Homo sapiens: one gene and its partner. The protein of the gene in region 1 purifies or fractionates together with the protein of each later gene. This does not show direct contact. Each region holds a gene or a part of one and is shown on either strand. Other genes may lie near its edges. The genes, in order: COL9A2 and MPPED2.

What was found.
Region 2: the proteins of COL9A2 (region 1) and MPPED2 fractionate together in Homo sapiens (co-fractionation; one large-scale study listed by BioGRID). This does not show direct contact.

Annotation. Positions count from the first base shown.
Region 1 is NC_000001.11:40,303,787-40,307,601, reverse strand, and holds part of COL9A2 (collagen alpha-2(IX) chain precursor), read left to right. Parts: intron 1-102; coding exon 103-156; intron 157-1,200; coding exon of another isoform or gene 1,201-1,318; intron 1,319-1,414; coding exon 1,415-1,459; intron 1,460-1,833; coding exon 1,834-1,887; intron 1,888-2,754; coding exon 2,755-2,808; intron 2,809-3,072; coding exon 3,073-3,126; intron 3,127-3,210; coding exon 3,211-3,282; intron 3,283-3,502; coding exon 3,503-3,538; intron 3,539-3,629; coding exon 3,630-3,674; intron 3,675-3,762; coding exon 3,763-3,795; intron 3,796-3,815. UniProt on the Homo sapiens protein: Structural component of hyaline cartilage and vitreous of the eye.
Region 2 is NC_000011.10:30,534,199-30,538,013, reverse strand, and holds part of MPPED2 (metallophosphoesterase MPPED2), read left to right. Parts: intron 1-1,838; coding exon 1,839-2,020; intron 2,021-3,815. UniProt on the Homo sapiens protein: Displays low metallophosphoesterase activity (in vitro). May play a role in the development of the nervous system.

The DNA of each region.
Region 1 (3,815 bases):
TTCTTGCCTCTGGATCTCAGTTTCCCTACCTGCATCTGGGTAGAAGCCATGGCCCTCTGGCTGGAGCTTTAATTTGTATCTTTGGTTATCTGTCTATCCCAGGGCAGTGCAGGACAGGCGGGACAGCCCGGAAGTCCAGGCCACCAGGGCCTAGCGGTAAGTGTCAGGTGGAGCCACAGGGGCTGGCCAGGGGCTAGTGGCTGATGAGGTTAGAATCCACACACACCCGGGGCTCTTGCTCAATCACCACCTCTTGCCTTGTTACCAACTCTGTGGCCCCTGGCCTGGCGAAGGCTTCATTACTTGGACAATTACTCTAGCCTTCTCTTTGGCCATTCCAGTCCTCCATGTTGGCTAAATGGGATCTGACCATTTCTGCACTATAGCACCTTCCATGGCTCCCCACCGCCTCCAGGAAAAAGTCATTCAGTCCAGTCCTTCAATAAGTAGTTATTGAGGTCGGGTGCAGTGGCTCATGCCTATAATCCCAGCACTTCAGGAGGCTCAGCTGAGTGGATCACTTGAGGTCAGGAGTTCAAAACCAGCCTGGCCAATGTGGTGACACCCCGTCTCTACTAAAAATACAAAAATTAGCTGGGCGTGGCGGCTCATGCCTGTAATCTCAGCTACTCAGGAGGCTGAGGCAGGAGAATTGCTTGAGCCCAGGAGGCGGAGGTTGCACTGAGCCAAGATTACACCACTGCACTCCAGCCTGGGTAACAGAGCAAGACTCCATCTCAAAAAAAAAAAAAAAAAATAGTTATTGAGTATCTGAGGTATACTAAGTGGCAGGTAAACAATTATAAATAGGACAGATGCAATCTTTGTCTTCATGGCTCATCTTACCATTCAATGACCACCATAATCTGACCCCAACCTGCCCCTCCTGCCATATCAGCAATGGCCCCTCTCTGTCCTTTCCCTTCTCAACAGGCCTTGGCTTTTCTGCCTCCACACCTTTAGGCCTTTGCTGGTCCCTCTGTTTGAAATGCCCTTTCTGGTCTCTTTGTGCCTTCTTATCGTTCAGGGCCATCTCCATTCCATACCTCCTGGAGTCCAGTCCATGGGAGCCTGCCCTCCCTCCCTGTGGGGGTACTGAGTGGCCAAACCTGTTTCTGTGCACACATGCAGACTTGTGTTCCTGCGTGCACTCACATGGGCTCAGGCACCTGAGAGCACATATCCATCTCTTCCACGTAGACCCCAGGTCCTGGAAGACAGGCCATTCTCTGTGCCCCACTCCTCTGCCACCACTGTGGGAATGTACAGTTAAGTTCATCATGCCGTGGCTGGACCTTCTGTTGTTCAGCTCCCACAGGTGGGGGAAATCTGGATTGGGGATGGGAAGCAAAGCAGCAGGTGCATGGGGCTCCCTCATGCCAGGGCAGAAACTGACTTCAACTTCTTTCTGCAGGGTGTGCCAGGCCAGCCTGGGACAAAAGGAGGCCCTGGAGACCAGGTGAGGCGATCCCAAGCTGGGGACAGAATTGAGCAAGGAAGTCTGGGGCCAGGAAGACAGCAAGGCCCAGGCCTCAGCCAAGTCTCAGAGGCTCAGCCAGAACATAAGCCCCTTGGGCCTAACCACCTCCCTCCTGCCACCTCCCACCCATCATGCACTCCTCAGCCTGCCTCAGTGCAGATAGGATGGCATGGCTTAAAATCCAGAGGAGAAACAAACAGGAAAATCAGGAGCCAAGAGGATTGAACCAAGAATACCCTCTCCCCCGTCCCAGCTCATCTGGTTCCAGGCTCTGTTTAGGCTTCGTTGGGTTTCCCTGAGGCCAAGGGCCTGACTGGGCCACCCAGACTGACCTGAGAACTGTTTTCCTGCAGGGTGAGCCGGGCCCGCAGGGCCTTCCTGGATTCTCTGGTCCCCCTGGGAAAGAGGTAAATGCCCCCTGCACTGACACAAGGGTTCCTGCTTTAGGGTGAGGCCATGGGGTGGAGCCCTAACCTAGGGAGAGCTCCGAGTTAGTCTGGCTCTGCCCTGACCCAATGATTCAGGGAAGCTCTTTCTCCTCCCTGGGCCTGTTTCCCTATGTACATTGCAGGGAGGGTGGGGACTGGCTCTGTTCTGGAGTGTGACTTTCCTAGATGGCCAAGTTGATGGGCTGGGAATCCAACAGGCAGAGTTGTTCGTTCATTTATTCATTGCATAAACATTCACTAAACACTTGCAACTATGAGTCTCCTCTTCATATGGAGGGTATAGTTTAATGGAAGAAATAGACATGAAATAAATGATCACGCCGGGCGCGGTGGCTCACGCCTGTAATCCCAGCATTTTGGGAGGCTGAGGCGGGTGGATCACGAGGTCAGGAGATCCAGACCGCGGTGAAACCCCGTCTCTACTAAAAATACAAAAAATTAGCCTGGGGCGGTGGCAGGCACCTGTAGTCCCAGCTACTCTGGAGGCTGAGGCAGGAGAATGGCATGAACCCGGGAGGCGGAGCTTGCAGTGAGCGGAGATCGCGCCACTGCATTCCAGCCTGGGTGACAGAGCAAGACTCCCTCTCAAAAAAAAAAAAAAAAAAAAAAAAGAAAGAAAGAAATGATCACATGATAAGTAATTCAAATTGTGTTGGGTCCTTTGAAAGAAAACTACAGGGACCCAAAACCATGGAACAGGTGGTCTGGGAAACCTTCCCTGATGAAGCAAATTAGCTGAGACCCAGGGTAGGGAGGGGCTGGCCAGGTGTGGAAGGGTGGGTTCCACCAGGTCAAACGCTTAGCCCCAATTTCTCCTTCCTCCAGGGAGAGCCAGGGCCTCGAGGAGAAATTGGTCCCCAGGGCATCATGGGACAGAAGGTAAGTGCCTGGCACAATGGCCCCTCCCCGGGGGCCTCTGCGGCAGCTGGCACTGCTGGATACAGCATCTGCTCCGTGCAGCCCGTGAGATGCCTCCCCAGGCAGGGCCTAGGTTTGCTTTGCTGGTCTGCCAAGTGGAGAAAGGACCCCCTGCCAGTGACAGCAGGAATGGAGGGCACCCTGACCATGCGGTGCCAGGCCTCGGTGCGGGAGGCTACCCCTGCTGAGAGCTGCTGAGGTTGTGACCTTCTCTTTCCATTTCAGGGTGACCAAGGCGAGAGGGGTCCAGTGGGGCAACCAGGCCCTCAGGGAAGGCAGGTGAGTGCAGGCCAGCTAAGGTGGGCAGGGCGTCATATCCAGGCCCCTCATTCCATTTATTCCTTTGGTTTCTTTTCTCCTCAGGGCCCTAAGGGGGAGCAGGGCCCCCCCGGAATTCCAGGGCCCCAAGGCTTGCCAGGCGTCAAAGGAGACAAGGTGCCAGATGGGGCTGGGAAACACCTGGGAAAGGGGCCCTATAACAGGGGGAGTGGGGTCGGCAGGACTCAGATCCTTCCGGAGCCTCCAAACCTGCGGATCTCAGGGTTCTGGTCTGGTCGGCGAGGCGGAGTTGGAAAGAGGGGTGTGGCCGAAAGTTAGGTGGGGGACCCCGTGGAGGGGGGAGCTCGCCAAACCCCTCACTGCCCGCTTTCTCCAGGGCTCCCCAGGGAAGACCGGGCCCCGCGGCAAAGTGGTGAGTTCCAGCACCCCTGTTCCCAGCGACCCCCAACCCTGCTCTGCGTCCCCGCCGCCACCGCGCGTCTGACCCGTGGTTCTCTCTGCAGGGTGACCCAGGGGTGGCCGGCCTCCCCGGAGAGAAAGGCGAGAAGGTGAGCGCGCGGCCTAGGGAAGGGCGGGGAGCGGCGGCTGGCCCCGGGGTCCCCGCGGCTTCGTGACCGCTGCTCCTTGTGCCTGCAGGGCGAGTCCGGCGAGCCGGGGCCCAAGGGACAGGTGAGTCCTCCCCTCCCGGC
Region 2 (3,815 bases), on another chromosome or scaffold:
AGTCATTCATTCTCTGGGAAAACTACTTTTCAAAGACAGGAAATGTTGCTAAGATTGTAAGCACCGAGACTGAGTGTAACCAAGTCTCAGTGATGGAAAGGAAGACATCAAACATTTTTACATCTAAAAAAGCAACATCGGCTATAATGAGGAGGGTTTCCAGGTTACTAATGAGATCACAGTGGATTAGTGAATTTTCTACGTGGTAACAGCATATTAATTTCTAACCTTTCTAACAGAAAAAATCCATTAATTTTTTGCGGAAGTTAAACTTTCTTTTTGGGCTTCCAATTAGACCCACTGTGATAACCAGTTCACAATTCCTTCCTCCCTACTCTCCTCCTTTCCTCCCTTCCTTCTTGCTCCTCTTACTTTCCTTCTCCGACACAGATAAGAGGAAATAAAAAGGTTAGTCATTGAAGAAATGTGGGACTATCCAGGTTGCACACTGATCTCTTCTATTTCCCTCACTGAAATTGTCATTGTTAAAACAGATTGTTTCTTTAAGAAAATAAATAAATAAAGGAAAAGAGAAAACAAATTAAACAAAGCCTGTAGAGGCAATATGTTTAGGGAGTCTTGTGTGGAGCTTTCAGTGTGTTCTCTGCTGCATGTTAACTATCAAGGGTTGGGGCTGGGATATGAAATATTGTTCCTTATTTAATGTTTCACACTCTAATCTCTGCATTGCATATTTGCTTCTCTTGTGACCTTCTCTTTGCATTTATAACTGCTTCTTTTCACCTATAATCCGAAAATAAGTGTACATTCCTACAGAGAAATTAAAGGAGGCTGTCAGTGTAGAGTTAATATAGTTAAAGCATCCTTAACTCTGCGACAAACCCCTTAAATAATTAAAACTGTATGCTTGAAGAGTCAGATTTGCATTCCTTTACCAAGTTTATTTAGTACACTTTGTTACACTCAATTAAATGAGGATGTTCTGTTTCATTTTCTTTGCTTTGGGTTGATCATTTTGCCTTTTGATTCTTATGCCCTGGTGTAATTTCACAGTGCTTAGGTCTCTAAAACTATACATATATTAACGTATATGTAGATATATACATCCCATTAAAAGGCTTAATATTTGTACTGAATAGAATCTTTGCCCAAGGCATTTGAGCATTCCTGGTAACCTCAGGTGTAACTGGGACTGCAGATAATTCATCGCAGTAAAAACGAGTTTGACAAAGTTCTTTTAACATCCAGTGTCTTTTTTTTTTTTTAATTTTTAAAGCTCTGTTATTTTGGCATCACCTTCTCTCCCTACGGTTTGATTTGTGAATAGCAAAAACCAGAAGATACAGGTGTTGAATGGTTGTGGAAAGGAAATTAAATATAAGTGCTATCTCTCCACATCTCAGTTGGCAGAGCATGTGCAGACTGCTCTCTGTAAATTAGTTCATTGCTTAAGTTATGCATGTTTAAGAAGGAATAAATTAGTTATCTATTTCCTAATGAGTAGTGGGATCAATTGGAGCATGATGAGAGAGAAATAGCATAATTTTGCTTCCCCAGTTGAGGTTCAGTATCCCTAAACTTCACCATTAATCACTCTATCAGTTTCCTGGGTTATTTCAGATCTATATGTAAGATATTCATTCCTTTTAATTTTCCTACCAGGTAAGTAAGTCCTTTTGAATTTGCCCAGTGGGTTTGTAAATGGGTGATGCTGTCTCTGTTACACCCAGAAGTGTCCTTAATTACAGTGGGCCCTTCTGCCTTTGCGTCAGTTTGTCTGGGTGCATTCACGAATAATAATAAATATGTATGTGCGACGACAATTTCAAGGGTTCTAATATGTTTAACTGTTATGGGATCTGTTATGTCTACTTTAGGGTCGACCCCATCCCATATGACACTCCAAAACCAGCGGGCCACACGCGGTTTGTCTGCATCTCAGACACACACTCCAGAACAGATGGTATCCAGATGCCTTATGGGGACATCCTTCTCCACACAGGCGATTTCACCGAGCTGGGACTGCCCTCAGAGGTTAAGAAGTTTAATGACTGGTTAGGTAAGGAATGATTGCGTTCTGGCGGCCCCAATTAACCTTTCCCGTCCGAGTGTCACTCACTGCGTCCTAATTGAATTAGAGCACTTGGAAGCCAGCTCAGCCATTTCTCGTATGATATGCGGTGGTGTCTAGCTTTAATCCAATTCTGTTAATTAAAGATGAATTTTTAGATATTTAATTTTACTGTGCATCCTTTCAGTGCCTGGCCTTGGTGGCTCTGGGGCAAAGGGATGGAAAGCTTTGAAACCCATCTCATCTCACTCATTCTGCTTTAATGAGGGCATTCATTGGCACACAGGAGACCTAGAATCATATTTTTAATTCATTGGCTCTGCAATCTTTTTTTCCCCAGATATTATAAGCAAAGATATACAAATGACCTACTAGTAAGAGAACATTTCTAAGAAATGAAGGGGTTATAAAAGTCCTTATATGAAACAAAATTCCTATAGCACAGTGCTGCTTGGGAGCGGATTTCCTAAGTGAGCTGGAGGGTGTTCTAGACCCCTGAAAACATGAGATATATTACTGTAAAGTAAAAACTTGGGATGTGAAGTTGCCCTGTGTCCTGTAAAAAGGATAATAGCAATTTTCTGGATATTGTGGAGGCACCCACAGGTCAGTTACTGCAAAATATTGGATCCTGGTTCCTCTTAGCGGAGGGAAAGAAGTGCAAATGTTCTGAGATTTTAGAATCCCTAAAGACGAAAGAATTATATAGTAAAGAGCAGACGTCACTCTGGGAGCGTAACATTGTCAATAATATGTCAGCCAACAAAAATAACTTGGGAGATTTAGGCAAAAACATTACAACTTTGTTTTCCATCAAACTAAAGCAGGGTTTGAAAATTTTTTAAATTTTCGATTAAATGATAAGACGTGTTAGTGGAAAGATGATATTTTAGAATTGTAAGCAATAAACTTAACTAATAACATAATTATTTTGATTTTTCATGTGACTTTGCTCATCTGTTCACATTTTGTATGGTTGACATCTGAGTACATATCTGCTTTTTGACTTTTGGCTGTTTTCATTTAATAGTATTTATTGGTAAGACTTAAAACGTTTTTGCATAATTTTCATATTCTTTTTAATAGCAGCATGGCATTCATATGGTTGGCTATGCCTTTCTTTAATAAGACATCTCTCTAAAAATGAGCATTTAAATTGATAACAATTTTTCCTCTGGTAGCTAGCACTGAAATGTGCATTTTTGTTTGTGTATGTCGTTTTGTTTCTATTGATTTATTTCTTAGGGAAAAATACTATACTTAATTTGCTAAGTCAAAGGATATGAAATTCTTTATGGTTTTTGCTACATGTTGGCATGTTGCTTTTCAAGGGCACTGTAGCTGTGTGTTTCACTAGCAGTGAATGAATGTATAGGTACTAGTTTTATCATGGTCTTGGCAGCATTGGATGTTGGAGCATTTATATTTTGTGCTGTTTTAGTAGGTACTTAATCATGTTATTTAAAATGGCAAGATATTTTAAATATTATTTAGCATAATCTCATTTTTACAGATGACACAGAGATGTAGAGAAGTTAAGTGATTTTTTCAGTTTCATAGTGGCAGAGTTGGTTCTAAATCCAGATCTTTTCGCTTATGTCTTTTTTCTCTACAATAATCTCTTTATTTTAGCAACTTTCATCCATGAACTATTAGCAGTTAAAATTATTGTTGGTAAATCTTGAGAGTTTTGAACTAGTCTGTGTCAATGGAATTTCAACACAGAAATTATCGAGCTGCGTTGACAATGTTGATTTTTAAAGGAAGACAACAGCACTGTGGG